Regions from separate parts of the Homo sapiens genome. Here regions 1, 3, 4 and 5 are each linked to region 2. The links come from fine-mapping of genetic effects on gene expression. A gene starts in region 2. Each other region holds a variant in brackets. All regions are shown on one strand. Distances are between the middles of the regions.

What was found.
Region 1: its variant is fine-mapped to the expression of ZNF514 in lymphoblastoid cells (TwinsUK, PIP 0.95).
Region 3: its variant is fine-mapped to the expression of ZNF514 in unexposed skin (GTEx, PIP 0.91).
Region 4: its variant is fine-mapped to the expression of ZNF514 in T cells (GENCORD, PIP 0.95).
Region 5: its variant is fine-mapped to the expression of ZNF514 in whole blood (TOPMed, PIP 0.95).

Annotation. Positions count from the first base shown.
Region 1 is chr2:95,002,957-95,009,381 of GRCh38, reverse strand. It overlaps MAL-AS1 (MAL antisense RNA 1), which reads left to right. Exons shown (of 8, transcript XR_007087136.1): 7 at 1-2,799; 8 at 6,249-6,279. It also overlaps the pseudogene RN7SL575P. Among named protein-coding and RNA genes, the nearest start is that of MAL, 20 kb to the left of the region's middle. The variant A/G (reference allele first, on the strand shown) is at 3,380.
Region 2 is chr2:95,156,433-95,162,857 of GRCh38, reverse strand. It overlaps ZNF514 (zinc finger protein 514), which reads left to right and starts at 3,010. Exons shown (of 5, transcript NM_032788.3): 1 at 3,010-3,618; 2 at 5,419-5,507. RefSeq lists a silencer at 2,934-3,183.
Region 3 is chr2:95,479,502-95,485,926 of GRCh38, reverse strand. It overlaps TRIM43B (tripartite motif containing 43B), which reads left to right and starts at 1,173. Exons shown (of 7, transcript NM_001164464.2): 1 at 1,173-1,321; 2 at 3,209-3,623; 3 at 4,237-4,332; 4 at 5,392-5,622. The coding sequence starts at 3,213. The variant GTCTT/T (reference allele first, on the strand shown) is at 2,497.
Region 4 is chr2:95,837,863-95,844,287 of GRCh38, reverse strand. No RefSeq gene overlaps it. Among named protein-coding and RNA genes, the nearest start is that of LINC00342, 14 kb to the right of the region's middle. The variant C/TAC (reference allele first, on the strand shown) is at 3,359.
Region 5 is chr2:95,259,243-95,265,667 of GRCh38, reverse strand. It overlaps a transcript of ZNF892 not described here. Among named protein-coding and RNA genes, the nearest start is that of PROM2, 12 kb to the left of the region's middle. RefSeq lists a silencer at 520-704. The variant C/T (reference allele first, on the strand shown) is at 3,460.

The sequences.
Region 1 (6,425 bases), 150 kb after region 2:
TACCTTGACTAGACTTGCCCTCTTTAAGTTATGGTTATTCTTTTTATTCTTTATTCCACTTCTTTGCCCACAGTGCTGTGGGCTTTAGGGTCACTCTGGCTTCCTCTGACCGGCCCTGGAAAGGAGGCCTCCTTCATGGCACCTTTTGTTGTCCTTGAAGAAAGTTTTTGTTACAGGAAAGGTTAACCAGAGGTTACTCTGCTTTATAGAGTTAATATCTCACTCATTAAACCCACACATTCAAAAACCCAGTTTTTACTCAGGCATTTAATTTCAGCCAGCAAATTGTAAAATTGTACGTGTATATTTTGAAAATTGTACATATTTTGTCTAACATTTTTGGCAATCATTTTAAGGACAACTTTATTTCTTAATAATTTCTTAAGGATTAAATTCCCTTAAACCTTTAGAATTGTATTTATAAATGTAATAGTTTCTGTTTTTCCTGTAAGTATTCTAATTATTAGAATTATTTAAAATATTCCTGAATATTTAAACAACTTATGAATCCAATAGATTAAATCTAGAAATATGGTGTATTTTGAGTTCTCTCAAGTCTTCTATACTGCTTATAAATTTAGGACATTTTAAGTAAAAATCACAAAGCTCAGCTGATGACATATTTTAAATTAGAAGCAAAAAAGGTGAATATTTACTCCATTAGGGCTAATTTCTTTTAAACTTGATGAAACACCTAGAATTTGTAAACTATGTGCAAACTTACATGAAATATTATTATTTTGGGTTTGGTTTATTTAATAATTCTCTACTTTATTCTAACCCTCCCTGGGCCATGGTGACTCAGAGACAGGGTCAGTGCACAGGCTGGGCCCATGGAGAGCAGGGCATCCAGAGCTTGTCAAGGGCTGCTGGCCAGAGCCTGCTCCCCTCACTGCTCTTTAAGTGACTGTAACAGAAACGGGTGGCCTTAAGCCAAGCTGAGCGGGGGTTTCATTACACCTGCCTTGTAGGGATTCTGGGATTTGTCATGGGGACACACTACAATGTGTACCTACAATAAGATGGAAAGATGTTCAATTACACTCTATACACATATACACATGAAAGGGAGGGACCCCTTTTGCTTTGCCTGTGTGCAGTAGATGCTTACACGGAGAGTTTGGTGTAGACAGACAGAGACAAGAGGCTCCGCATTTCAGGGAGGAGCAGACCTCTACAGCGACCAAGGAGGAGGGCCAGATACAACTAACTGGAAGCTGAGGAGCGGGTTCTCAACTTGACCCTCTGAGGGCACAGGAGACATTACTGAGCAGGTGCACAGCTGTGCCAGAATGAAAATGTTCTGTGACAGAGACAAGAGCGCCTGCTGAGAGCGGAGCTGTCTCCATGTGCATGACCACAGCCACAGCCCTGTGACATCAGGCATGTGACACGCTTGCTGGCTGATGAGGCCCAGAAAGGGCCTTTAGAGGTGGCTGCGAGGCAGCGCTGCAGTAGGATACCCTTATAAGGAAGCTTTTTGCCAGGACTGGGCTGGCGGCTGTCCTGGGAACCCCAATCCCACAGTGCTTCTGGCTTTCCTCACCATTAGCATCTCCTTTCCTAGCAAATATCCTGAGAGCGCTTTGAGATTGTGTTTTTCTCCTGGGGCAACCACCTGCAGAATCTCCACGGAGGGGCTGGGAAAATGCTTTGCATGATCCCTCAAAGCTCCCTTTCATCGAGGGAGGAAAGGCTGAGAGGTGGGCCTCAGAAAGAGCTTCGTGGGGGCAGGAGCCATCCTGGGGGTAGAAGAGGGGTGTAACTGGTCTAGTCCATCCGAAGTAAGGGCTTTAAGGAGCCTGCTGGGAGAGTTTAACCTGGGACCCCCGCAGCATGAGGGACATAGAGACTGGCCTCAGACCCAGGCTTGGATGATCCAGAGGGTGAAGTCAGGCTGGCAGCCTGCTCTTATGCTGGAGCCCAAGTGGGTCATGGGAAAGAAGAGCCAAAGCGTTCCCATTGACCAGAGGCCAGGTGAGAGAGTGAGGCGGCCCAAGGTGGTGGCAGCTCCTGTGGGAAGAGACCACCCCAGGGGCTGGAGGTGAGGCTGGCTGCCCAGGGGCCGAGGAAGGAGGGAGTGGCCAATCTGAACAGAGCGGCCTTCTCCTCCTTAGGGTCTGTAGCCAAAGGTGCGCCGTGCAGCACCTGGAGTGGGGGGTGGTGGGGGAAATCTCCGAAGGAGTCAGGAAAGCACCTCTGCCAGGGCCAGATCCCATCACAGGCATCAGTGGGTGAAAGCGCTCCTGCTGCTTTCCTTTCTCCCTTTCCCGTCTCCATACTGGAAGGGCTGGAAATGGCTTTGAGGAGAAGGGGTGTGAAGAAGAGTTAGGCAGCCCACTGTGCCGCCCCGCCCTGGCTGCAGCAGGCTGGAGGGGGTTTAGGGGGTGAGGAGAGAAGGGGACTCAACACTGGATCCAGTTTTTATCACCCAAGAATGAACAGATCCCCTGCTGTGCTTTCATCCAGAACAGGAACTGCCCTGGAAGTAAGTAACCAGAACAGGAACTACCCTGGAGTGAAGTAAAGGGGCGGTGGGAAATTCCCGTGCGGCTGCTGCCGATGTCCTGTGCCACCGAGGCACTGCATAGTCTGTTGGAAGGGAAAACAGAAAAGTAACTTTCAACCTTCTCCCCTCACCCCTTTGAATGCCAAGGAGAGCCCTCCTCCCAGCCCCAGAAGAAACCTCAGCTGTGTTCTTGTGCTGTGCGTCCAAGAGAAAGATGATCAGAGCCCAGCGGCTGCATGCCTAAGCTTCCATGCTCTAGTGGCCACATTAGAAAAAGTGAAATGGAACAGGTAGAATTAACTTTAATAATGTATTATGTTTAGCCCCAAGATCTCTAAAACATTATCACTTAAACATATACATTAATAGAACAATTTTTGAGATATTTTACGTTCTTTCTGTTCCAGTTCTTTGAAGTTCGATGTGTATTTTACACTCACAGCACATTGCTATTTGGACCAGTCTTGTTTTGAGGGCTCAGTTGCCACACATGGGTCTCGGGTATCCAGGAATGGTTTTGTTTTTCAAGATTAGAAAATCCAGCCCAGTCTGAAACCAAAGCTGCAATCTTTTATCCAATCCAAACACCCACCTCCCCAGCCCAGGCTTGAAAACCTTCAGTAGAAGGGGCAGCTTCTGTGTGGGGGCTTTTCTCTCTTCCTCACTTTACCTTTTCTCCTATTTAGCAACTGTGCTTTTGGCCCCACCCCCTCTCTCCACCCCTTCTCTGCCCAGGGCCAGTGGGCAGAGCAAAGGCTGAACCCTAGGTCGCTGGGGCTCTCTGAAGTTCTCTCTGCCAGGCTGTGCCCTGAGGCGCCCTCTCTCGTGCCGTGGTGCTTTTGTGCTAGGGGCCGCACCTGTGGTTCCTTG[A/G]TGGCGCCCTTCCTTTGCTGGCTGTTAGCTCTCAGCTCTGGCCTGTTGGCTGCCAACTCACCTGGGATTCCCCTGGTGGGGGACTCGCCTTGTCTGTCCAAGCCATCTAGGCCCCTTAGAGAAGCCAGTTAGTGCAGCTGACCCTGCTGCCCAGGGAAGGCCACGTGCTTCTGCCTTCACTCCCTCTTCCCCCTGTTGTAGAGGCAGCAGCTGCTGCAGGCCTCGCTCTTAGGTTTTTCCAGGCACACATCTGGTACTGGGTCCTGGTGCTCCCCACCCCACCTCCAGGGACCCAGCCAAGTTCTCAGAGCACTCTCTTGACACTCCCTGTATTTGGCTTGGGGTACCCTCCTGCCTTCCTCTCTGTCATCAGCATGGGCAATGCACTAATAAAAGTGGCAGAATGCCCCCTGGAAAGTCCTATGTGGCTGGACCTTTGTCATGGGGATCCTTTGGCATGTCCTGCTTTCCATGGAGAAGCCAAGACCCCATTTTAACCCAACACATTTACAGATACAGCCAGGAAGGACACGCCACACCAGCACCAAAATATTCACATTGACCATCATGGGGGCAGCAGAGCATTCCCAGTGATTTCTACTTTTGCTTTATGAGTCATGGAATTTTCTAAAATATTTTTGTAAATTCTATTATTTATTATTTCTATAAGGAATTTTTTTTAAAAAAGAAAAACCAATAACTCCCTAAAGTCAAATAAAATAAGAATGTGAATGTTGTCCAAAAAATATACATCAAGAAGGAAGTAAATAGCAAGTGTTTGCGTCCACGTGTCCGTGCTCACAGGTCCTGGTAAACAGGCTGTGGTGTATTTGGAGTCAGACTTCTCAAAGAGCAACTTGGTGGCCTTGCTTTTTCATTTCCCAGGCGCCTTGCTGCTGGGGTTTAGTTACATTTGGCCAGTGGTGGGCTCTGGCAGGCTGTAGGAAGGTGGGTAGAGGAAAGAAACCATTGTTCACTCTACTTCTGGTGGGGCACTGACTGCAGGAGTTTAGTGCTCCCCCACCCCCACCCCCGCGGGTCGGTGCTGTCGGCAGCAGCGCACTCCTCTGCTCAGACACCAGGACCTCTTGTCTTGTGATCCTCCAGCCCTAAGGGGTGCGCTCACTTCCTGTGGTTATTAATTCTCTGGGTTATCTCTCATCTCCTTTTGTACTCCTTGTGCCCTGGAAACTATTTGTAATCAGGCCCCTGAATTAAATCCCCTCTTTGTGAAATACCCAGCATGGTTTCTGTTTTCCAGACTGGACGCTGGCTGACTCAGGCACGCAGTTTTTGACCTCAGCCTGGCGCGACATCCTCCTCCTTGCTCTTCTCTCTGTAGCTCCCAGGTGGCTCATATGTGCCCCAGCACATATGTGCCCCAGCTCATATATGCCCCAGCTCTGTTTTCTGCCTCCCACAGAGAGCAGGTGCAGGTCATAACACGGAGCATCTGGCCTAAGGCCAGTTTGGCCAAGCCTGCGGCAGCCAGTGACCCCTCAGGCCAGGACTCCTGGTCCTAGTACCTAACGTCCTGTGCTGTGCCTGCCACTGCGGTCCCCCAGGGGACAGGGCATGCTATAGAGGCCTGCCCACTGTATGCAGCTGAGGAGCAGCCTCTTAGACCTGAGGCCTCAGGTCACAGCAACACCACAGCCTTGACTCCGGGCTGTCCACACTGGGGGACACCTTTAGGAAATTTAAACTTTTATCTTCCAGTTAAGGAAAACAGAAGCAGCGAAGAGAAGTGAACTGCCCAAGGTCACACAGTGACTGACTTGGAACAACATGGCCAGATCCCAGGTCCCTGCCTCCTGATCCAAAGCACTTTAAGAAAAAAAAAAACAACAAAAAACCAAAAATGAAACTGTTTATTTTGAGATCATTATAGATTCACAGGCAGTTGTAAGAAATAATACAGAGAGATCCTGTGTGCCCTTTGCCCTGTTCCCCTCCATAATAACAGGTTGCAAAACCATAGTACAATATCACAACAAGGACATTGATGCTGATACACTCCACCAATTTTCAGGTTTCCTCAGTGTTACTTGTATCCATTTGTGTGTGTGTGTGTGCATGTGTATTTAGTTCTGTACAGCTTTATCACCCACACAGAATAGATTTTGTATCCACTACCACACTCAAGAGGCCAAGCATCTGCTGGGCATTGTGGCAGGTGCCTGCAGTCCCAGCCACTCATGAGGCAGAGGCAGGAGGATCATTTGAGTCCAGGAATTCTGGGCTGTAGTGTGCTGTGCCAATTGGGTATCCACACTAAGTTGGGCATCAATATGGTGACCTCCTGGGAGCAGGGAAGCACTGGATTGCCTAAGGAGGGGTGAACTGGCCCAGGTCAGAGATGGAAAAGGTCAAAACTCCTGTGCTGATCAGTTATGGGATCGCGCCTGTGAATGGCCACTGCACTCCAGCCTGGGCAACCCAGCAAGACCCCATCTCTTAAAAAAATGTAAAAGTAGGAAAAGATGCATAACAGCTCCTTCCCCACAGGGATCCCTCATGCTGCCCTTTTAGGGCCACACCCACTTCTCTCCTGCTTCCAGCTAATTAAAAAAATTTTTTTTTAGAGATGGGGGTCTTCACTATGTGGCCCAAGCAGGTCTCAAACTCCTGGGCTGAAGCTATCCTCCTGCCTCAGCCTCTCAAAGTTCTGGGATTACAGGCTTGAGCCAGTGCACCTGGCCAACATTTGATTTTAATCACAAATTTAATAAAGGAAACATCTTCCAACATTCTAAACTGGCTTTAAAAATTTAATATACTCATTTTCTTTTTTAATTATGTCAATGGTCTGATAGTAAATTGGTTTTGAGTCTTTTAAATGAGTCTTTTTTTTTTTTTTTTGAGACAGATACTTGCTTTGTCACCCAGGCTGGAGTCAGTGGCACCATCTCAGCTCATCGCAAACTCCACCTCCCAGGTTCAAGGGATTCTTGTGCCTCAGCCTCCCAAATAGTTGGGACTGCAGGCATGCACCACCATGCCCAGCTAATTAAATGAGTCTTTGTATCTAGTAAGTTGAACTTGA
Region 2 (6,425 bases):
ATAGCAGTGCAAAATGGCCTAACACAGCTCGTTTCTGCTTCACAATTTCTGGATCCTCAATTGGGAGGACTATATCTGGCACCCAGATTGGCACCCGTGGCTAGGCTCAGCTGGGACTGTTCGCCAGTGTCCCCGCATGTAGCCTCTCTTTGTGCTTGGACTTCCTCACAACATGGTGGCCTCGGGGCAATCAGGCTTCTTGCACCTCATTTCAGGGCTCTAAGAGGGTCCCAGTGAGCAAGACAGAAGCTGCATGGCTTTATTTATTTATTTATTTATTTTGGAGACGGTTTCGCTCTTGTTGCCTGAGCTGGAGTGCAATGGCACGATCTTGGCTCACCACAACCTCCGCATCCCGAGTTCAAGTGATTCTTCTGCCTCAGCCTCCCGAGTACCTGGGATTACAGGCGTGTGCCACCATGCCCAGCTAATTGTGTATTTTTAGTAGAGACAGGTTTTCTCCATTTTGGTCAGGTTGGTCTCCTGAGCTCAGGTGATCCGCCCACCTCGGCCTCCCAAAGTGCTGGGATTACAGGCATGAGCCACTGCGCCCGGCCAAGAAGCCAGTTTTCGTTTCTTTTTTTTTTTTTTTTTTGAGATGGAGTCTTGCTCTGTCACCCAGGCTGGAGTGCAGTGTTGCAACCTCGGCCCACTGCAGCCTCTGCCTCCCGGGTTCCAGAGATTTTCGTGCCTCAGCCTCCTAGGTAGCTGGGATTACAGGCGCACGCCACCACACGCGGCTAATTTTTGTATTTTTAGTAGAGACGGGGTTTAGTAGAGACAGGTGTGAGCCACTGCGCCCGGCCGCCAGTCTTAAAAATTTACAAACTGTATGATTCCATTTATGTGACATTCAGGAAAAGGCAAAACTATAGGGAAGGTAACAGAGCAGTGGTCACGGGTTGGGGTGGAAGAGGCATTTGACTGCAAAGGAGCAGTAAAAGGAATATTGAAGGTGATGGAGAGTGTATAGGCTGGTGAGGACTGGAGCCCCACCAACAGTGCTTTGAGATCAAATGGTGCACTAGAGCACTGAGCAGGAGAGAGAATATTCCTGGGGTAATGAATGTGCATTGTAACAAACAAGGGCCTCTGGATCAAGATCTGTCCCAAAGGACACAATGTAAGAGTGGGGAATTTCAGACACTGCAGCAGGCCTACAGAATGGGCATCAGGGAAAGGCAGTGGCCCTCAAGTTCTTCTGAAGTAGTTCCATTTCTAGTTCTGTTGAGCCATCAATGAGATGAAAATCTTTTCTCATTTGTCCATCCCCTCACCTTTTTGGTTCGGAGCACCGAAGATGGAAAAGCTCCTATATCAGCCATGGTTCCCAGACAATGTCCCCCTGCGTGGAAAAGGGCTTGCTTGCTGCGCCATCCTGGCCATCTGTGCCACTGGAAGTGCTGGCAGAAAAGTGAAACAGAGACTGCAAAAGCAGGAAAGGAGAATGGTCTCTTTGCCTTGATTTCGTGTTATTTTGTCTTTGCCTTGATTTTGTAAGTTATTTTGTCCTGAACTCCTAAATAGGGTTGATAAACCAATCTCTCTGTCCTCACAAGTGGCCCTTCTCTGGCTGAGGACTGCCTCCAGAAAACCACCGTTTTAATACTCAGACTGTGTCTTAGGCATTGGCGCTGCTATAACAGAGTGTCTTAAACTGGGGAATTTGTAAACAACACAAATTTGTTGTTCACAGTTCTGGATGCTGGGAAATGCAATATCAACGTGCCAGCCAGTTCAGGGGCTGGTGAGGGTACGTTTCTCATAGATGGCACCTTCTGTGTCCTCACATGGCAGGAGGAGCAAAGGGGGCTTAAGGCCCGTTTTTATTTTTATTTATTTATTTAATTTATTTTTTGAGACGGAGTCTTGCTCTGTCGCCCAGGCTGGAGTGCAGTGGCACGATCTTGGCTCACAACCTCTGCCTCCCGGGTTCAAGCAATTCTCCTGTCTCAGCCTCCTGAGTAGCTAGGATTACAGGCGTGCACCACCACGCCCAGCTAATTTTTAAATATATTTTTGGTAGAGACAGGGTTTCACCATGTTGGCCAGGCTGGTCTCAAACTTCTGACCTCAAGTGATCCGCCCGCCTTGGCCTCCCAAAGTGCTGGGATTACAGATGTGAGCCACCACGACCGGTCTAAGGGCTGTTTTTAAAGGGCACTAATCTCATTCATGAGGGCAGAGTCTTCCAAAGGCTCCACTTCTTAATACTATCACCTTGGGAGTTAGGTTTCAACATATGAATTTGAGGGGGACACATACATTCAGACCATAGCAGGCCGTTTTTCCATTTCTTTTGGGTCCTAAATGATATTTGTTTCTGGAGTAGGAGGGCGTTCAAAGTCCTCTTTTGTTCTTCAGCACCCTTCGCTGAATTCAGGGGCAGATGGAGAAAGGCAAGAGGCACGGGGCAGCCTGTAGAAGCAGTATCTAGCACTGAGTCCCCAGTATCCCCTAGGCACGCCAGGAGAGCCTCCTGGAAATCCTCACTCAGCAGATCCAGGGTAGGAACGCGGCTTCTGTTGAATAGCCTTACATCGAGATATGCAGGTTGGGGGCGGTGGCTCACACCTGTAATCACAGCACTTTGGGAGGCTGAGGCGGGAGGATCATCTGAGGTCAGAATTCGAGACCAGCGTGGCTAACATAGTGAAACCCCGTCTCCACTAAAAATACAACAAATTAGCTGGGCGTGGTGGCGGGAACCTGTAATCCCAGCTCCTACGGAGGCTGAGACACGAGAATTACTTGTACCCAGAAGACAGGTTGCGGTGAGCCGAGAGCGCGCCCCTGCACTCCCACCTGGGCGACAGAGTGAGGCTGTCTCCCCCCTCCCCCCAAAAAACGAGAGAGATATGAGGCTCAGCTACCAAAGTCACGCGCGAGAAGGGAAATGCTTGTAGGTCCCTGCCCTTGGGGGAGAGCGGAGTGAAAACCGGCGCGTGGCCGGCGAGCACGGCCCCTCCCAGCGGAGGTCCTACAGGCGCCCGCGAGCCCCGCCTCTCCAGCTTCGCCGCGCCAGCACCCCGCCACCGGCGCTGGCTCTGAAGGGCCCCGGCGGCGGCCGCGTCTGCGCAAGCTCGGGACGGCCTCGGGAGGCGGGGCTGGCGCGGGGCGGACGCGGGGGCTGGCGCGGGGCGGACGCGGGGGCTGGCGCGGGGCGGACGCGGGGGCTGGCGCGGGGTGGCGGGCGGGGGCTGGCGCGGGGTGGCGGGCGGGGGCTGGCGCGGGGTGGCGGGCGGGGGCTGGCGCGGGGTGGCGGGCGGGGCCTGGTCCTGTGAGCGTTCGGAGACTGCGGGCGCGCAGACCTGTACTGGGCCCGCGCCCCGGCCCCTTACAGAGCTGGGTGTGTCCCTCCGAGTGCCCCCCGCTAGGGACTGTGCAGGCCGGAGCTAGGCAGGGACAGCGGGGCGAACCGGGCTGATAGAGTCGGTCCCTGCTCCTGTGAGGCTCTCACCGAATCCCTGCTGTTTCCGGGCAGCTGAAGAGCGCTGGGCCCTCGCGTCGCGGGCGTGGCTGTGGCCGTGTCTCCTGGTAGTCTGAGCCCACTGTGCGTGTGGATCCACGTGGGAGCTGGGTTCCAGAGCCTGGTCCTGAGGAGGAGCCGAGCCGGGGGTAGGAGGCCGGACTTGGCGAGGGAAGAGCACGACCCCGGGCAGCAGTGCGCCGCGCTGGGCGCACCGGGGTTTGCCGGCCCTGCTCTGGGCCCTGCAGGTCCGCTGGCCCCGCCGCGCCTAGTGGGGATGCCCCGTGTCCCCCAGGCAGCCCCAGCCTGCGTCCCGCTCCCTGAACCCTCGGGAGGACCACAGGGCTGTGGCCGAAAGACAGAGATTTGGACCTAGTGAAAGGACGCCGCTCCTTAGCCCCAGCTATGGACTCCACAGCATCAGGTTTGGCTCTGGAGCGTGCAGAGGGCCAGGAGCCCTCTTGGGGAGCTAGTACCGAGCCCGATATCAGGAGGACCCCAGGAAGAGGCCGGGGAATCCCACTGAAGGGTGAGGCTGTACTTCATCTGCCTTCCGTGTGGCGACATCTAACCTTCCAGACCCAGAAGGCTGAAGCCGCAGTCTCCTGGGTCTGGCAGGGGTCTCTAGATGACCGTGGCGGAGGTGGAGGGGATGGCCATGGAAAATTGTCCCAATGGCCAGAGGAGAGCAGAAGAGGATCTGATCTCTTCCTGCTGCGGCAGGGAGAGGGCAAGCAAACCCAAGAGGGAGTGGCCCTTGGCCAGGGATCAGAGGACGATAGGGCCATTTGGAGCCTTGTCATCCACCTCCTTAATCACCTCACTAATAAGGTTCTTCCAGTCGTTCTAGCTCAGCGGTGTATAAGGTCAGCAGTGTACATGGTGGGTATCTCCTCTGAGCCCCTTCCCCCAATAGCGTTGGGGGCAGGGCAATCCAGGTGACCCAGGAGGTTTTAAGCCAGTCCTAAGTTTAGAACGTCCTATCTCTAACCAGGTGGGCATTTTAATCCGACTGTTCATCCTTCAGTGCACATGCTCAAGGACACATAACTGGCCAGTGGAAGAACTGGGCCCAGTCCGTGGGCTTCCCACCCCCTCTTTTTTCCTTTATACCCTTGTTAATCAGTGTGGCTCTGGGAACAGCAGAGGCATTGCCCAGAAGTTCTCTAGAATTGCAGACTCTGGGGCCCCACACATCCTCAAACAGTGTCTTAGCAAGTCTTGAGCCAGAGTTTAACAAGATCCTCAGGGATCCACACACACATGAAGCTTGAGGAATGCCTAACTGTGCTATGCTTACACCCATGTTGTTAGCCTTAACTACTTCTCTGGCATGGTTTGGGTTAGTTTTTTTGTTTGTTTTAAGGCTTTTATGAACAGTATGATGCAAAGCTTTATAATGAAGGAGCTCTCAAGTGTGTTGCAGAGACCTAACAGAGCTTGGGAACACCAGGGGCAGCTTCTCAGAAAGAGGTGGCCTCTGAGCTGGGTTCCCAAGGATGAGGGGAGAGGTGTAACTTCCTCCCCTTAAAGCCTCATAATCCTGCATGGCCTTGCCTTGGGTCTTGTGTAATTGTTAACCTGTAGGCTAGATTTAAAGTTCCTTGAAGTTCTTTTCCATATTTATATTTCCAAAAGTCCTAGGAGATGACCTGCATACAGTATGCCCAGTAAATAACTTCAGTGGTATGGCCAGACTGGTCACACTTCACTCACTTGTAGACTGATGTGGGCTGTGGACAGGTGGGAGCCTCATGCAGCTGTGTACAGGGGCACTTCTCTCAATGTTTGAAGGCTAGAAGCTGCCTCTCAGATCCTTTTGATCCACTGGTGTCCTCAGAACAACGGAGGTGACATTCAGAGCTGTTCTGGGTCTCAGGCTTGGGAAGTCTGAGAGCTGTGTGTGCTGGCTGGGTCAGCTTCCCTTATGTCTCCTTCTACCTTCCCAGCTTCCCCTTCTCAGAATCCTGCTCTTCCTCCAGAGAGATTCCCAGGAGAAGAGGGAACAACCAATTCATTCCTGAAAGCCAGGCCTCGGGTGAGTTGTATTCTTAATTTTTCCTCAAATGCCTGAACGATGGTTAGCTTTGCCTACTTTTCACCAAAAAGTAGCCTCTTTTTTCACTAAGGGAACTGACCCAATGCTGTCTCTGCAGGAGGCTGAGCCCATCCAAGTGAATGATGGCTCCCTGACCTGTCCGGGGTGTTCTCTTCTTGCTGTGCACCCACTCAGATCGTTTGGGCTTACTCTGACATATTTCTAGAAAGGGCACTGTGGTGACCACCAGGTAATGTGACAGCCCTGGCCTTGAAAGAGTGTCACAGCCACAGTGGAAGAGGACCCTGACACCCAGGACGCAGCCACCAGTAACAGGATGTGAATGGTTTGATGCCAAATGGAGTGGCACAGACAGGCCTTTCCATCGAGGTTCACGAAAAGGGGAATCGGCCTGTTCTGGAGAGGTTGGGAAAGCTCATGGAGAATTGGGGACAAGCAGGTTCTGAGGGTATGGACAGGTGGGCAGGCTATTTGAAGCTGGGTCCCTGTTCAGATGTTATCTCCCTGGATAAGGGAGGAGGCACACTTAACTTTACTACTTACAGGCTGTGTGGCCTTGGATGAGTCACCTAACCTCTCTATGCATTGGTTTGCCACCAGTAACATGTTAAGCAGGCAGCAGTAACATGAAGACTATAATAATGTTAATGATGATGAAAATAGTTATTATTTATGGAGAACAAAACCTGTATCAGGAACTATTCTCTACAATTTACACATACTAATTCATTTTGTCTCTAAAACATTCCCATAAATGGTTACCATTTTGAAGAATGGTAACCAAAGTGTGGAGAGGTTAACAGAAGAAGTCAAGGCACAGAGAGAGAAAGTAACTTGTTCATGGTTATCTAGTTAGTGAGGAAGGGACCCCAATTTTACATCCAGGCTGTCTGGCTC
Region 3 (6,425 bases), 320 kb before region 2:
ACAAATGTAATGTGGGAGTCAGACAGCATGTGTCACTAAGCTGAGAGCAGTGACATATGCAGGTGACATTTGCATGTCCTGGCAGCATTGTCCAGCAAAGTCTTCCTTTCTTTGGGGATGGACCCTCCCTCCTCACCTGGAGCAGCTCCACGTCAGGCATGTGGCACGTCTCCCACAGCTCTCTGTACATGTCTTTCATCCTTTCTAAATGTTGGGTCATTCTCACTTGACTGTCTTGTAGTTGTTGGAAAAGCCCTTTTGCTTCTCTGTCCAGTGCCTGCAGATGAAGTTGCTTCTCCTCATCGAGAAATAGACGCATCTTTTGATATTGAATATTGATTATCACCTTACTTAATGACACATAGTTCTGCGGAGACATTTGGTTAAAAGGATTACATACTCTCACTCTCAACAGAAAACTTCAAATAATTATATGCTGGGTGTAATCAAGCAATCTATAAACTTTCTGCCTCACTCTTGCAAGGAGTCTTGAATATTTGTTATTTCTTTCTGTCCATCTTTTTCAATGTTCCTATTCTCTCTCCCTCTTTAAATCAAAACCTATATAAAGACTTCTAGTTTCTCTTCCTGAGATGCTTATTCACAGTTCTTACTGAGTCAATTATCTACTCTATTAATCTCCCTTTTAGGATTTTTCCATGTCTGATTCACCTAAATGTTAAAACACATTTAGCCATACACTATATTATGCAGATTGATTTTTCCTTTTACTATATTTTTACTCTATATACTATTTTATATACTATTCTATTTCTTTCCTCTTCCTCACACCCAATCTTGGTGAAATGTCTCATCTCCAGTGTCTGAAAAGGTTTATACCAACCTTCAAATTTGAACTAGAATACATATCACGCCATTTATCCAATAAACTAGAATTAATTTGGTTAGCTTGTGTGGGCTTCTCTATTTGCAATTCCTATTATATCAATTATATCAAACCCCCTCTCTACTAAAAATGCAAGAAAAAAACTAGCCAGCGACAGAGCCAGACTCCTTTCAAAAAAAATAAATAAATAAAGATAAAACTTCTGTTCTGAAGAAACTTAATCATCTATGTTAACACCCACCTACGCCCTGTGAAATGCAATCAATTGGAAGAAAGGGGTGTGGTCTTCAGAGATTTATAAACCGACACTTCAGGAGCCAAGCTCATTCTTCTCCAGAGCCCACAGAGTAGCTTTGCAACTGGCTTTGGGGACTTCCGAAAGCTACCAGCACTGCACTGTGAGACTCTCATCCCTGAGCTGAATCCATCTGATTCGACAGCAAGCTTTGGTGAGAACATAGATATATTTCTGAGGTAAGTACACAATTTCCAGAGAAGGATCTACTATTAGGTTACAAACCAAAACAAAATTTGGGGACTTTAATTTATCTGCAAACTTAGATTATTTTTAGATGGAATGATCTCATTTTCCGAGTTTTAAAAAGGCTCCATTTCTTTTTTAAAATTATTTTAAACATAATCCATAGGTTTATGGATTAAACATGGGCCACCATGTTCAGCTATTTATTTATTTGTTTATTTATTTATTTTGAGATGGAATCACGCTCTATTGCCAGGCTGGAGTGCGGCGGCGCTCTTGGCTCACTGCAACCTCCGCCTTCCAGGTTCAAACGATTCTTCAGCCTCCGCCTCCAGAGTAGCTGGAAATATAGCCGCCTGCCACCACGCCCATCTAAATTTTGTATTTTTTTTAGTAGAGACGGGGTTTCATTATGTTGGCCAGGATGGTCTCCATCTCTTGATCTTGTGATCCGTTCACCTCGGCCTCTGAAAGTGTTGGGATTACAGGCCTGAGCCACCGCGCCCGGCCTTTTTTTTTTTTTTTTTTTTAAATTTATATAAGTATTTTTAGAGACAGGATGATCTAGACATTTTACCGTGTCACCAGTCTAGAGTTCCTGAGCTCAAAATACCTGCCTGACTTGGCCTCCCAAAATGCTGGGATTACAGGCTTGAGTCACCTTCCCTGGCTTGGTTTTAATTTTTATTTGTATTTTAGCAAAACATACATTTAAAACGCTGACTTAACTGTCTAGTGCCTCGTTTTTGTTTTTGTTTTTGTTTTGGGGGGGAGACAGAGTCTTGCTCTGTTACCCAGACTGGAGTGCTGTGGCACTATCTCGGCTCACTGCAAGCTCCGCCTCCCGGGTTCACGCCATTCTCCAGGCCCCGCCTCCAGAGTAGCTGGGACTACAGGCGTCCTCCACCACTCCCGGCTAATTTTTTGTATTTTTTAGTAGAGTTAGGGATTCACCATGTTAGCCAGGATGGTCTTGATCTCGTGACATCGTGATCTGCCAGCCTCAGCCACCTCGGCCTCCCAAAGTGCTCGGATTACAGGCGTCAGCCACCGTGCCCGGCCTCTAGTGCCTGTTATTGCATGATACTTACTCTTTTCCTGACTGTGTGAAAGAGTAATGATAATGCTTCAATTATCATTATCTTTTTGTAAATTGAATTAATTGTCT[GTCTT/T]TTAAAGATGTTGTAATATTAACCAGTATATCCCCAAATTAACAGACTGTCCAGGAACAGGAAACATGCCAGAAAGTTTTTGTTGATTAAATTAACATAGCAGCCTAGAAAAACAATGATTCTTAGCTTTACCTTGGAGAGGTAACTTACCTTGATTTGACTGTTTTTCCTTGGAGAGTAAAGGCTGGCTTTTTCTGATTTGGGTCAAAGTATGAGTTCTGCTCTAACATTTTCAAGCAATGTCCTTCTGGAAAAGTCATTATGGATGGTTGTTATAGTTAAATAAAATAATGAGAGTAGAAGAGCTTAGTTAGCTTTCCTTCTCTAAACCAATCACTGGCAATGAAGACTGTTACTGATTTTCAGACCGTTCAAGACTCAAACTTTGAGTTTACAGGTTGATGAAACCCTTGAAGCCCAAGCAATTTGGTGGATACTAACACCTCAAAAAATCCGACATTCTTCCATGCAAGAAAGTAGAGTTTGGAAAGCTGGTCATGTGTTGATTGGAGAACAGTCACTTTTTATAGAGATTGATGTCTCTTTGTGCCTTAGTTTTCTATTTTTCCTATTTCTGTCATTGCAAATTAAAACCTATACTTCTTTAGAAAGAAAGGATATTATTCGATCACGATCTGATTCAAACTTTGCTTGGATCTTTGTCTCTCCAGGGTAGAAGATTAAATTCCTGTGGTTTTCTTTCCTTAGGAAAATGGACTCAGACTTCTCACATGCCTTCCAGAAGGAACTCACCTGTGTCATCTGTTTGAACTACCTGGTAGACCCTGTCACCATCTGCTGTGGGCACAGCTTCTGTAGGCCCTGTCTCTGCCTTTCGTGGGAGGAAGCCCAAAGTCCTGCAAACTGCCCTGCATGCAGGGAACCATCACCGAAAATGGACTTCAAAACCAATATTCTTCTGAAGAATTTAGTGACCATTGCCAGAAAAGCCAGTCTCTGGCAATTCCTGAGCTCTGAGAAACAAATATGTGGGACCCATAGGCAAACAAAGAAGATGTTCTGTGACATGGACAAGAGTCTCCTCTGCTTGCTGTGCTCCAACTCTCAGGAGCACGGGGCTCACAAACACTATCCCATCGAAGAGGCAGCTGAGGAAGACCGGGTAAGAGATAGCTCTGTGATCACCTGAAAGCTGGAGGGTGGCAGAGTTAAAGAGATTAGAAGGATGATGAGAATCACGGTGATTACTCCATTCTTTACTGAGTGCCAGGTGCTGTTCTAGGTACCAATGATGACATTTTGAATAAAATGTGCAACTCTACCTTCCTTCATGGAGCTTGCACCCAAAAAGAGACTGATTAAGTAAATGTCATTATTATTGACTCTACAGTTCAATGCTAATGACATTGAAAAGCTACCAAAACTACCAGTGCAAAGAAAGGTATTTTGGAAATATATTTAATATTACTGGACAAATGAGTATGGGAGTAGCACACTACAAAATCAGGGGCTAGCATAGTGGGTTCTGAAGCAGGATGTTTCCCTGAACTAATTTAGCTGGGTTACAGGAAATCTTCACTCTTCAGTTCCCTAAACTGTTCTACATTCTGAAACCTCAAACTGAAAAATATCAATTAAGGATGAGCAATGAAAAATTTTGTTTTTTTCTCCTCTCACTAATGTATTTATATATTAGATCCCTTGCCTGCTTATACCACTCAGATGGTGGAATCTTTGGTATTTGACTTTCTGTTCAACCTTTAATTCTTTTGCAGGAGAAACTCTTAAAGCAAATGAGGATTTTATGGAAAAAGATTCAAGAAAATCAGAGAAATCTATATGAGGAGAGAAGAACAGCCTTCCTCTTGAGGGTAAGTATGAGACCGTGAGTCCTCCTGACCAGCTTGAGACAGGCATGCTGACAACATTTATATTAGCAACTTGAGTTGAAATTCTCATATGCCAGATTTTGTCATGTGTTTATTCATAGGCTGGAAAACAACCAGACTGTTCAACATAACGATTGTTCAGGTTTTCTGTAAATGCTTTTCAGATAAGTAAAAAATAAATATAAATTCTGAAGGGCAAGTATGTGCTTAAAATTAATAAGTATTTCAGACAGTTTTCTGTATAAAATGAATTATGAAATATTGATTAAATAGTATATAATTGAGAAATAAAGGCATTTATTGGTGAATATGGTATTGTCCGGGGGAAGAAATCGGGTGGGAACAGTAATTTAAGAAATGTGCCTGTGCTGGTGAAATCTGGTAGCAAAGGACCCACATGATGCCAGTCCGAGTAGGAGAAAATGCAACATGAGGAAAAGCTGAGGAGAAGGGATAAAAAATGACTGGGGCAGTGAGAGGATAAATATGTCATTATTGAGAGGAGAAACACAATGGAATGGGGATTAATGTTCTTAGAATGGCAGTGCAATACAGAGTCTATGGATTTGACAGAAGAAAGATAGGAGACAGAAAAGAGGTAGTCGGTTTGAGAGATGGGGGTTAAATTTTTTACTAAGATCCTTTTTGTGTGATGGCTTCTGATCCTGATTATAATATACTAAAAACATTTCTACTAAGAGTGATTGTTCAGGCTGTGAAGTACAGAGATTTGAAACAACAACCTAAGTGAATAACAAAGATTATGTGTATTATCCATGACAATGTAACAATCAATCATAAATTTTAGTTGTTTTCTAATTGTATTTCCGATTTGATTTAAACATTTAAACCTAAAGGGCTTTTTTGCAGGTGTTTGGGAATTGATGAATTACATAAATTTTGAAGGAAGGTCTTGCTTAACTCATCATCCTGTTTGTAAAGGATGGAAAATAAAAGAAGGAATGAGGAGGATGAAGTTGTGGGCTCTGTGAGGTGGAAGTAGGCCTGGGTATATAACCTACAAAATTCATATCCCTACAGGGCGATGTGGTTTTACGGGCACAGATGATCAGGAATGAGTATAGGAAGCTGCATCCGGTTCTCCATAAGGAAGAAAAACAACATTTAGAGAGACTGAACAAGGAATACCAAGAGATTTTTCAGCAACTCCAGAGAAGTTGGGTCAAAATGGATCAAAAGAGTAAACACTTGAAAGAAATGTATCAGGAACTAATGGAAATGTGTCATAAACCAGAGGTGGAGCTGCTCCAGGTAAGAATGGAGGATGCCCCTTGAGACACTTTGTGTTAGCTGACCTTTACATCTTTGCCTTCCATTGGGTACCAAAGACATTATTTCCTCATCTCCTGCACTGACGGTGAGAGTCATTCCCACCGGTTATAGAGATAAACTATAACTCCTACGCTAATCATGGAAATAAAGCTTTATGGAATTGTGCAACTAGATTTCCATACAACATTTTCTACCACAAGCTTCCTCCTCCAGCACATTTCATTAAAACTCTGGAAGAAAAAATTTCATGCTTGATTTGAGCCACATTACACTTTGGGGACTAGCCCTGAAAAAGACCACATTGTAGACAGCTGCAGCAATGCGCAGTCACTACTCACACCTTTCTCTCTCACTCAAATTTAGGGTCCTTAATTTATCAGAAATCCATATTGTCAATAGGTCTTACTGGTATAATTGTTAGAGATGAGAATACATTTTAAAAGAGTGGCAGTAATAGTATACGGTAATTCTAAAGTTTTGAAAACCTAAAGACCAGATAGGCAGAATAGCAACTTTTTTGTGTGTTTATTTTGAGACAGAGTCTTCTTCTGTCACCCAGACTGAAGTCCAATGGCCCAATCTCAGCTCACTGCAACTTCTGCCTCCTTGGTTCAAGCAATTCTCCTGCCTCAGCCTCCCTAGTAGCTGGGACTAAAGGCATGAACCACCACACCCCACTATTTGTGTGTGTGTGTGTATTTTTAGTAGAGACGGGGATTTGCCATGTTGTCCAGGCTAGTCTGGAACTCCTGACCTCAGGTGTTCCACCCACCTTGGCCTCC
Region 4 (6,425 bases), 680 kb before region 2:
TGATATATACTGGAGAATGTTCCACTCACATTTCAGAAGAACAGGTACACTTCTGCTGTTGGATAGGATGTTCTGGGTATATCTGTTAGATCCAGTTGCTCCAAAGTATAATTCAAATCTAATGTTTCTTAATTTATTATCTTTCTAAATGATCTTTCCATGGTTGAAATTGGGGTATTGAGGTCTCCTACTATTATAGTATTGCAGTATATTTTTCTCATGAGATTATTTAATAATTGCTTTATGAATTTAGGTCTTGTGACCTTGAGTGCATATATATTTACAAGTATTATGTCTTCGTGATGAATTAACTCCTTTATCATTATGCAGTGAACCGTATCTCTTTTATAGGTTTTGACTTAGTTTATTTCTTTTAATAATAAGTATAGCTCCCCTGCTCTATTTTAGTTTGCATTTGCATGGAATATCTTTTTTCATCTTTTCAGTTTCAGCCTATATATGTCTTGACTGGTAAAGTGAGTCTCTTGTAGGCAGCACATGATTGAATCTTGTTTTTTATTCTATCCATTGAGATGCTCTATGTCCTTTTATTTGACAATGTAATGCACTTACTATCAAGGTAATTATTTATAGGGAAGGACTTGCTACTGCCACTTTGTAATTTTTTTTCTGATTGTTTTATGAGTTCTTTGTTCCCTTTTTCTCTCTTGCTGAACTATTTTATAGCTTGATGGCTTTCTGTGGTGGTATGCTTTAAAATTTTGGATAAATTGCAAAATAAACTTTTTTATTTTGTGCAGTTATGATAGGTTTTGTTTTGTGGTTATCATGAAACTTACCTAAAATATCATATTCTTATAACAAACTACTCTAACAACTTCTGATAGCAACTTCTCTTTAATTGCATCCAAAAGTCTACATTTTCATTCTCTCTCCCATACAATTGTACAATTTTGTCAAAACTTACCCTTTTATTTCATATTTATATACCTTAACAATTTATTGTAGCTACAGTTATTTTCAGTACCTTTGTCTGCTAACCCTACTAGTAGGGATAAAATTGCTTTACAAACCACCCTTAGAATATTACAGCATTTTAAGCATGACTGTGTATTACTGATAGCATTGAAGCTTTTTACTTTTATATGTTTTTTTCTTACTATTTAGGCTTTTATTTCAATGTAAGGCTCTTCCTTTAGTAATTCTGATCAAACAGGGATATTGATTATAAACTTTATTAGTTTTTTTTTGTATAGAAAGGTTTTTATATCTCCCTCTCCCTCATTTCTACAGGACAGCTTTGCTAGGCACAGAATTTTTTTTTTTTCAAGATGGAGTCTTGCTCTGTCACCCAGGTTGGAGTGCAGTGGTGTGATCTCACCTCCCAGGTTCAAGCTTGCTCACTGCAATCTCCGCCTGCCAGGTTCAAGCAATTCTCCTGCCTCAGCCTCCCAAGTAGTTGGGATTACAGGCCCATGCCACCATGCCCAGCTAATTTTTGTAGTTTTAGTAGAGATGGGGTTTCATCATGTTGGCCAGGCTGGTCTTGAACTCCTGGCCTCCTGATCCACCTGCCTCGGCCTCCCAAAGTGCTGGGATTACAGGTATGAGCCACTTCACCCGGCCGGGAACAGTATTGTTGATTGGCATTTTTGTTTGTTTGCTTGCTTGTCTGCTTTAGCATTTTGAATACATCATCCCTCTCTCTTGTGGACTGTAGGGTTTTCTGCAGAGAAATCCACTGAAAGCCATATTGAAGCTCCCTTGAATGTGATGTATTTCTTGTTTTTTTGCTGTTTTCAGTATTCTTTGTTTTTCATTTTTAATAACTTCATTGTGATGTGTGTTGATAAATGCCTCTTGGATTGAAATGGATTCATGACCTCTGCAGTTTTCATACCTCAGTGTTGTCATCATTCTTCATGTTTGGGAAATTTTTAGTCATTATTTCATTAAATATGCTTTCTAGGCCTTTTTCTTTTTCTTCTCCTTCAGAAACTGATATTATATGAAAGTTGGGTTGTTTGATTGAGTCCCATAATTGCCATATGCATTTGTTATTCTTTTTTGTTGTTGTTTTTCCCCTGATGGAATCATTTCAAATGTTTTTTCTGTAAGCTCACTGATTCTTTTTTTCTGCTAATAAAATCAGCTGCTGAAGCATTGTATTAAATTTTTAGTTTGTTGTATTCTCTATATCTAGAATTTCTATTTGTTTTTTGTTATCATATCTATTTCTACTTCAGAACTATCATTCTGTTAATGAATTTTTTCCCAAATTTATTTTAGTATGTTATCCATATTTTCTTGTACAGGCATACTTCAGGGATATTGCAGGTGTGGTTCCAGGCAACCACAATGTAACAAGAACTTGAATTTTTGGTTTTACACTGCATATAAAAGTTTTTTATACTATACCATAGTCTATAAAATGTGCAATAGCCTTATGTCTACAATTACATACTTTAAAAACTACTTTATTGCTAAAAATGCAAATGATCATCTGAGCCTTCAGTGAATTTTAATTTTTGCTGATAAAGAGTCTTTCCTCTGTGTTGATGGCTGCTGAATGATTAAGGTGGTGGTTGCTGCATGATTAAGGTGGTGGTTGCTGCAGATTGAGGTGGTTGTGGCAATTTCTTAAAATAAAACAAGAGTAAAGTTTGCTGCATCAGTTGACTCCTTGATTCCTTTGATGAAAGGTTTATCTGTAGTGTGCCATGCTGTTGGATAGCATTTTACTTCACAGTAGAACACCTTTCAAAATGAGTCGATCCTATCTAATGCTGCCACCGCTTTATCAACTCAGTTTGTATAATAAGATAGGTGTTTTTTTTTTTTGTCATTTCAACAGTGTCTTCACAAGGAATAGATTCCATCTCAGATGGATGGGGCTATAAGAAACAACTTTTAGTACATTCAAGTTTGATCATGAAACTGCAGAAATTCAGTCACAGGCTCAGGCTCCAATTTTACTTAGTTCTCTCGCTAGTTCCACCACACTCACAGTTACTTCCTCCACTGAAGTCTTGAAACCCTCCAAGCTATCTATGAGGGCTGAAATCAACTTCTTCCAAACTTCATATTTTGACCTCCTCCAAGGAATCACAAATATCTTTAATTTCATCTAGAATAGTGATTGCTTTCTAAAAAAATCCAAATGATTTTTAATTTGCCTTGTGCAGATACGCAGAAGAATCATTGTCTATGGCAGCTATAGGCTTACAAAATGTATTCTTAAATAATAAAATGTCCTTGATCCATGGGCTTCAGAATGAATGCTGTGTTAGCAGGCATGAAAACAATATTAATCTATTTGTACAACTCCATCAGAGCTCTTGGGTTATGAGTGCATTGTCAATGAGCAGTAATATTTTAAAAGATATATATATATATA[C/TAC]ATATATATATACACATATATATATACATACACACACACACATACACGTATACACACACACAAACACACACACATGTTTTCTGGACAATAGGTCTCAACAGTGTGCTTAAGATATTTGGTAAACCATACTGTAAACAGATGTGTTTTCATCCAGGCTTTGTTGTTTCATTTATAGAGTATAGGTAGCATAGGTTTAGAAGAACTTAAAAATGTAGCAGAATGGTAAATGAGTACTTCCTTTAATGTTTTAATGTAACCAGCTGCATTAGCCAGTACATAGAAAGTCAGCCTGTCCTCTGAAGATTAGAAGCCAGGCATTGACTTCTCCTCTATAGCTGTGAAAGTTTTAGGTATCCTCTTCTTCCAGTATAATGCTGTTTTGTCTACATTGAAAATCTGTTATTTAGCATAACTGCCCTTATCAATGATCTTAGCTAGATCTTCTGGATAACTTGATGCAGCTTCTCTATCAGCACTGGCTGCTTCACCTTGCACTTTTATGTTATGAAGATTCTTTTCTTAAACCTCATGAACCAACCTCTGCTAGTTTAAACTTGTCTTCTGCAGCCTCCTCACCTGTCTCAGACTTCATAGAATTAAAGAATGTTAGGGCTTAGCTCTGGATTCAGCTTTGGCTTAATGAAATGTTGTGGCTCATTTGATTTTCTATCCAGACCACTAAAACTTTCTTCATATCAGCAGTAATACCATTGTACTTATCATTTCTGCATTCATTGGAGTAGCCTGTTTAATTTCCTTTAAGAACTTTTTTTTTTTGCATTCACAGCTTAGTTTACTGTTTAATGCAAGTTGCCTAGCTTTCAGCCTATCTGAGCTTTCAACATGCTTTTCTCACTCTATTAATCATTTCTAGCTTTGTATTTAAATACTGGCATCATGGGGGCTAATGTGGCTTACAAAGTATAATTCATCTGGCAGATGGAACCATAGTTTGACACTACCAGTCTTACGTCAGTTTCAACCCAGTAATAAATCCAAGCCTACCCATTCTTCCCGGAAGGAGCTTGATTATGCATCAAATTCCACAACCTCTGTAGTTAGTGCCCAAGGAACTGTTTTCTTAACAACTTTGCTCTGTGAATCGACAGGATTTTTTATTTTTGAGTGTATTTAGACCATAGAAAACAAAGAAGTAAGCATACAATGGGCCCACATTCAGAAGCTATCTCCTCAGGATCAGAGGCTGCATCCAGAGTGTGCATAGGTGTGTTTGTCACAGATCCTCTACCAAGCTTAATGGAGAGAGAGTGGGAGATAAATGTCCATACTAATCTTCATCATGTAGCTAGAAAGAACTGAAACACTCCTCCAGCCTTCTAACTTTTTAGCTACATCTGGATTGTCTGGCTCCTACCTTAACCAATTTCTGGTTACTGACAAGGCGTGGCACATCCTAAGTTCCAGGGAGCCAACAAAAACAGTCAACACTAGAGCACACAAGGATTTGAGAGGTACCTGAAGATCTCTGGCTGGAAAGTTTGGTGAGATCCTTTTCCTACATGAGGCCAGTCTTATCAAATGCACAGGAGCCAACAGAGAGAGTCGAGGAAAAATGAAGAAACAGGGAAACATATTCAAAGTAAGAAAACAAGATAAATCTCCAGCACCTGAGTGAAGTGCAGATATGTAATTTATCTGACAGAGATTTCCAAATAATGGTCATAACAATAATCACTGAGGTCAAGATAGCTTTGCAAGAACAAGCTGAGAACTTCAAGAAAAGGAAAAACATTACACAATAATGTCAAACAAATCATAGATCTAAAGTGTACTGTAACTGAACTGAAAAAATTTAATAGAGGTGTCCATTAATAGAATCTATAAGTGAACTTTAAGACTGGTCACTGGAAATTATCTAACCTGAGGATCAGAAAAAAAGATAATGCAAACAGAGTGAAGACAACTTTAGACAGTTATGGGACACCATCGAGCAGGACCACTCACGCATTATTGGCATGCCTGAAGGAGAAGTGAGGAAGAAAGGAACAGAAAAATGTTTAAAGGATTAATGACAGAGAATTTATCAAGCATGGGGAAGAAAGCAGAAAGCCTGATCCAGAAAGCCCAAACGAAACCAAATAAGGTGAATCCAGGGACTCACAACAAGATACACTACAATCAAATTGTCCAAAGTTAAAGAGAAAAAGAGAGTGATATTGTTTGCAAATTTGTACCCTCCAAATATTGTGTCGAGATTTGATCCCCAATGTTGGAGGTGGGACCTAGTGGGAGGTGTTTGGGTCATGGTGGTTGATCTCTCCTGGATAGCTTTTTGCCCTCTTTTCACTAATGAGTGGGTTCTCACTGCATTACATGAAAGATGGTTGTTTAAAACAGTGTGGCACCTCTCCCCTCTCTTCCTACCTCTCTAGCCATGTGTGACATACCTCTTGTCTCTTCACCTTTAGCCACAAGTAAAAGCCTTCTGGGTCCCTGACCAGAAGCTGCGCAGATGCCACTGCCATGCTTCTTCTACAGCCTGCAAAACTGTGAGCCAAACAAACCTCTGTTCCTTATAAATTACCTAGTCTCAGCTATTTTTTTATAGCAACACAAAAATTTGTGTTTCTCCATGTTGCTCTTTTCTGTGTTATTCTGTGTTGCTAACACAGAAATTAGTACCAAGGAGTGGGGTTTTGCTATAAAAATACCTGATAATGCAGAATTTGCTTTGGAACTGGGTAATAGGCAAAGAAGACAGGAAGATGAGGAAACTTGTGGAACTTAATTAGACCTTGGTTAAGTGGCCGACCAAAATGATAATAGGAATATGAACAGTGAAGGCCATGTTGTTGAGGTACATAGAATACAACTTTCAAGAAGTGGCTGCACCATTTTGCATTCCCACAAGCAATGAATGAAGTTTCCTCTTGCTCCACATCCTTGCCAGCGTTTGATGTTGTCAGTGGTTCTAGATTTTGGTTATTCTAATACGTGTGCAGTGGCATCTCATGGTTGCATTTCTCTGAGGAAATATTATGTGTAGCCTCATTACATATGCTTATTTTCCATTTGTATAATTTACTTGGTGAGGTACTTGTTAAGG
Region 5 (6,425 bases), 100 kb before region 2:
ACTCACAGCAAAAACTCACTCATTACCAAGGGGACGGCACTAAGCCATCCATGAAGGATATGTCCCCATGATCCAGTCCTCCCATCAGGCCCCACCTCCAACATTGGGGATTACATTTCAATATGCGATTTGGAAGGGACATAGATCCAAACCAAACCACAGGGTAAATGGAGTGGTGTCCCCAAAGGCAGATCACAGTGAAATGCCTCCAAATGTAGAGGAGAGTGGAGCCGTGCCTTCCACATGCAGGGGACAAGGGGCAGGCCCATGGAAGCGCACAGTGGAGTGAGGCAGTTCCACCGAAGGCAGAGGACAGGGCAGCTGTGCCTTCCAAATGCACTGGGCAGGGAAGCAGTGACTCCAGATGAAAGTGAGAGAGCAGCAGAGACAGCCAAGTGCAAGGGGCATGGGAGCCCTGCCTCCCAATACAACAGTGTGGGTTGTGAGCCTTCCCACATACAGAGCAAAGAGGGAATGCTGTCTCTTTAAATACATAAGACTGCCAAGCAGTCCCAGGTCAGTGAAGATGACAGGGGAGCATTGACTCCAAAGGGAAGCAGTAGTTGTGGAGCAGTGCCTCAGCCTGCAAAGGGCAGGGAGGCAGTGGCTCTGCAGCAGAAGACAGGGTTTGTGCCTGCAGATGAAGATGATGGTAAAGAAGAGAGCAGCAGAACAGTGTCCCCCAAACACACAAGCAGAGCAGTGCCTTCCACATCCACAGAAGAATGGAAAAAGGGCTTCCCACTGCAGAAAACACTGGAATGTTTCCTTCCAAATGCAGAGAATGTTGGAGCCGTGCCTCCAGCTGGAGTACAGTGAGCAGTAACATCCAAATGCCGAGTACAGCAGAACAGTGCCCCCAAATGCAGAGACGGCAGAGCAGTGCCTTCCTAATATGTCAGACGGTGCATAAGCGACTTCCCAGTGCAGAAGACAGTGCAGCAGCGCTTCCAAATGCAGAACAGTGTGGATCAAGGGCCTCCAAATGCACAGGCCACATGATCTTCCCTCAGACTGTTATAACCAGCCAAATTACCATTTCAGTGGCATAAAGATGGCAATATTAGACCTAAAGAACCTAAAACATTAATATATCCTGCATTCTTTTTTGTAGAACTTCCTAGAGGATGTATTCCTCAAAAATGGTGGCACAAGCCAAGAATAAGAAAGATACAGGAATCAGGAAACAGTGAATCAATGCCAAAAGAGAGGCAGAGACACCTCAGGATGACAACCACCTGTTTACGTAACTTGGAGACCACCCAGACCAGATTAGAGTGGGAGAGGAGCAGTGTGTGTGTGTGTGTGTGTGTGTGTGGATGGAAGGGAAAGAGGGATACCTGGGGATAGGGATTCTAGAATAAAGGAAAACTCTGTAGAAGGTGCCTGATGGAGTATTGGAAATAAAGATATGTGTCTAGTAAATTATGCAAGTTACCAAACAGGGAAATTTTATAACATGGACTAAGAAAAGAGATGCAATCATAGTACACCTGCAAGAGTTAGGCCAACACTGGAGGTGGAATTCATTCATATTATAGCAATTGTGGCCGGGTGCGGTGGCTCACACCTGTAACACACCCTAGCACTTTGGGAGGCCGAGGCGGGCAGATCACCTGAGGTCAGGTGTTGGAGACCAACCTGACCAATGTGGGGAAATCCCACCTCTAGTAAAAATACAAAAATTAGCTGGGTGTGGTGGTGCATGCCTGTATTCCCAGCTACTCAGGAGGTTGAGGCACAATAATCGCTTGAACCTGGGAGGCAGAGGTTGCGGTGAGCCAAGATGGCACCACTACACCCCAGCCTGGGCAACAGAGCGAGACTTTCTCAAAAAAAAAAAAAAAAAAAAAAAAAAAACCAAAGAAACAAAAAATAAAAACAAACATATTAAAGCAATTGTAGTGTGATGAAAAAGGATGAAGGAGCTACATTTGATTCTCTCATAATAGAAAGTTAATACGCAATGTCTGTGTTCACAAATCTAGATACAGCAACATTTTTTAGAGATATGGAGGTAATATCAGAAAAAATAATTAAGAGAAGAAAGTTGGATTGCAGGCAGCAAGGGCAGGGCAGGGTTTTGCTGATTTTGCAGTATAGTTCTTTTTGTACTGTTTTATTTTTTACCAAATGTATGTGTTATTTTGCCAAAAATTTAATATTTTATGTGAAAGTGATCAGGTTTCTGTATTCATTTTCTATTATTTCTGAAAGAAATCCCCACAAGCTTAGTGGCTTCAAGCCATGCAAATGTATGATCTAATTGTTCTGTAGGTAGGAAGTTGGGTAGCTCGGCTGGTTCCTCTGCTCTGAGTCTCACAAGACTAAAATCAAGGTGTGGGTTGATGGCTTGGGCTCTGATCTGGAGGCTCTGTGGTAGAATCTAGGCTGTTGGAAGTATCCAGGTCCTTGTAGCTGTAGGACTGAGGCCCCTGTTTCCTTGCTGGCTGTTAGCCATGGGTGCATCCAATCCTCCTCACCTTTGGAATCTCTCTGACTCCTGAATCTGCCATATTCTCTCATCTTTTCTGCCTTATCTCTCTGACTGACTCATCTGCTTCCTAATCTGTATTTAATGACTCACACTGGAACCAATTACATATTTCAGGATGATCCCCTACCTTAAAGTCTGCTGGTTAGTAACCATAATTACATCTGCAAAGTCGTGTCACAGCCATACCTTGAATGACATTTGATTGAATAGCCAAGGGACAGGAGTCCTCCAGGGACATCTTTAGAATTCTGCCTATAATAGGTTTGTTGATTATAAAGCTCCTTATTGTCTTTATTTGCTACTATAACTTCTGAGTCTCCCAGAAGGGGGATTTCTGTGTCAAGTATCTCTTGGATTAGGTTCAGTTGAATACGTCAGAAAACTCCAAATAACAGTGGGGAAACCTAAGCCGAAATATATTTCCTCTCACATAAAATGAGACTGGAGGTTGAAAATCTAGGGCTGTCCCGGCAGCACCATAAATGTCAACAACCCCTGCTCCTTCTCTCTTTCTACTCTATCATCCTAAGGCAGTCTCTAACCTTGTGGTTACTTCAAGGAACAAAATGGCTGCAGAAGGTCTAGTCATCCCTTCCACATCCCAGGCTCAGAGATGGCTGAGAGGAGGTGTATCCCTCCTGGTCTCAACTTCCTTTAAACAGCCTTCCCAGAGGTCATCCCCAGACCTTGAACTCACATCTTATTAGTCAGAACTTGGTCATAAGGCCACACATAGCTACAGGTAGGGTGGGAAACATGAACTTTCGGCCGGGCACTCTGCTGCCTGGAATAAAGACACAGCTCTGTGGCTCAGGGAGAAGGGAGTGTAGACACTGTGTGGATGAAGCCTTCAATGCCATCCTCTGTGTCTCGAGGTTATCTGACTGTAGATGCATTTTGTTCTGAGTGTACCAAGCAAATTCTCCCTGTCAGAGCACAGCTCAGAAAGTGTGGCTGTTCTC[C/T]CTCACTTCTCCCTCACTTGCATTCTTGCTGCCTAATACATTTAAGTTTTACTCTCCTAGTCCCCAATTAGTAAAAGTATTTTAGAAGCAAATGACATAGTACTGAAGAAAATAAAAATACATATCCATAAGTTGTGTTGTATTAAAATAGGATCCTGTACTTGTCAAGCGTAAACGAAATAATTCATGTCTTCTCTTTTCCCTTTCATTCTTGTTTTACTCTGCTGGTACTTAAATACGTTAGAGCGTGCACTGACTGGCACCACACCTCCATGTAGCTCTGAAGGAGAAGGGGAGCCCCCAATGCCTGCACGGGGCCCATTCCTACCAGCCTTGGCCCTGGAACTTGATGCATGACCAGTCGCAAATGAGGAACTCCCGGGACTTCTGCCTGGAGGTCCCCAGGCCCTCTCCTTTCATATTCAACTAGATGGCTCAGCCCATCCCACAGCATCCCTCCCACCTCCTTGCAAGGCAACTTCCTCTATCGAAGACCTCAGCACAGTAGAGGATTCTGTAGTGTCCCTTTGCTCACTTTGCTACTGGTCACAACCTGGAATCTGGGAGCCAGTCCCTGTCCTTTGTCCTTGAATCTCCACTAAAAGAATTGTGGAGGCCAGTCGTGGTGGCTCACGCCTGTAATCCCAGCACTTTGGGAGGCTGAGGCAGGCAAATCACCTGAGGTCAGGAGTTCGAGACCAACCTGGTCAACATGGTGAAACCCCGTCTCTACTAAAACTATAAAAATTAGTTGGGCATGGTGGCGGGTGCCTGTAATCCCAGCTACTCAAGAGGCTGAGGCAGGAGAATCACTTGAACCCAGGGGGCGAAGGTTGCAGTGGGCTGAGATAACCCCATTGCACTGCAGCCTGGGCAAAAAGAGCAAAACCGTGTCTCAAAAAAAAAAAAAAAGAATTGTGTAAGGGTCTTTGACAAATGGTTGGAGGTAAGGAAGGTAAGTGCCACAGAGGAAGGAATGTCAGTCATCACGTTCCTCCTGATGCCCTCACAGGTGTCCGTGGTGGGGAATCTCTCTGGGCTCTGCCTGCCTGCAGGGCCTCCCTCTTCTGGGTTGTCATGAGTCTCCTCCTGTCTCAGATCCTGGCACTGAAAACTCAAACTTGTAGCCTGATGATAACATCATATGGGGTTCTGTCTGGGGCTGGAATGTGAGCCCTCTCCATGTACACAACCCTTTGCAGGTCACTGTTGGAGGGATGCCTAGAGGACACTGCACACTAAGAGAGAACCACCTGGGCTGCAGGCCGCCCTCACCTTCTCATTTGGGATTCATGAGCCACTGAGGACTCCAGTCTTCCATGTGCCAAAGCGGGGTTTGGCCTTGCTGACCTCTGAGATTGACCCCCGGCTTCACCAATCAGCTGCTGGTGATCCCACCTCCCATCATGCAGGAAGCAGGCACTTCCTGAGCAGCATTCTTGCAGATGAGGCAGGGCCCAAGACAGCAGAGGCAGAGGCAGCAGTTTGCCTGGGCCCAGGGAGACAGAAATGGGCCCTTTACTCTTGCAGTCAGTCTTCTTGTCCCCAGAGGGAGAGAGGATGAGAACCCAGGAGACTGGCTTTGTTGTCAAGGTTTCCATGGAGACTGGCAATGTCCTAGGGGGACCTGTGGTGTAAATTACAACCTGGTGAAGTAGGCTGCTCTAGGATGTCCAGGAATGCACTTTGGTGAGGGAGGCAGTGCCCCCAAATGAAGATTGGGCCTTTGATAAGAAGGGGAGACAAAGAAGGAATTATGAGTGTCAGCAGAATGGAGCCCAGGAGGAAGAGCTGAGGGGGATGGCTGGCATTCAGGATCTAGGCTAGATCAGGGAGAAGGCGGGTAACACGGAGGCCAGACACTGTTTCAAAGTCAGTGTGAAGCAAGGAGGTGGCAAACCCAGGAAGGGACAGAAGGTCAGCAAAAAAGGGTGGGTGTGTGTTTGGCGCCCAGGAGGAACTAGATGAGCTGGTGAGTACAGATGCAGAAATGAAGTGTGGCATGTGAGCACATGTTGCAACAGGCAGCAGGCTGCTGGGAGAAGCACCAGAAGCATAAAGCAGAAACTCAGACATGGGCCAGCTGGAAAAAGGAGCCTTGGTTCTGTGATATGTTGGGAGCCACGCAGCAGCCGGACCTGGGTGTGAATCTTGGAGACAGAAGCTTCCCAGGGCACCTCCAGGATCCAGGTTTCACCTAACCAAAGCTCTGACAAGAAGCCCCAGGGTTAAGTGCGGCTCCTCCCTGGTGGTGTCAGGCTCCCCAGGAGCACTCCTGTGGGAATAATAGCCTTTGCTTCAGGTGGGGTGGGGAACAGCTGGAATCCCCTCCTAGGACTCTCTCTCCAGGAAAATCACTGTGATTCAGCAGTGCTGCTCCTCTACAGAGAAGCCCAGCACCTCTGCACTTAAAAATTAGTCAAAGGCAGCAGACTGCCTGTCCTGGAGCCCAGGGCTCAGGTTTAGCCTATATTATCATGAAGAATAGATCACAAGTGAAGCCATCGGATCATAACACTCGCCTCCCACTGGTGCCCCTACAATCAAGTTCTGTCCCAATGTTTGTTGGCCACCACAGCCAAGACAATGCTCCATGTTCACTTTCCTCTCCCAGATGCTGGGGAAGATTGCATATTCCAGGCTCCATTGTAGTTGGCTCAGGGACATGTGGCTAATTCTGATGAGCAGGCTGTAAGTTAAAATCAAGTGGGTTACTTCTTGGCTGAAGCACAGCAAAGTAGGTGTGAGGTCACCTGGCTTTCTTCTCCATGGGGGAGACCCTGAAGCAGCATGCTGAGATGGTGATGTAATAAGATGGTGGTGCCTCCATCTGCCTGGATCTCTGGGGTCTTGTCAGAGCCGCCAAACTCAAGCCTCCAATCTCCCCCAAATACACACATACACACTCCAATCCCAGTGAAGAGTGGCAGAACATTCAACCCCAAAATAGGCCACTTTGACATAAG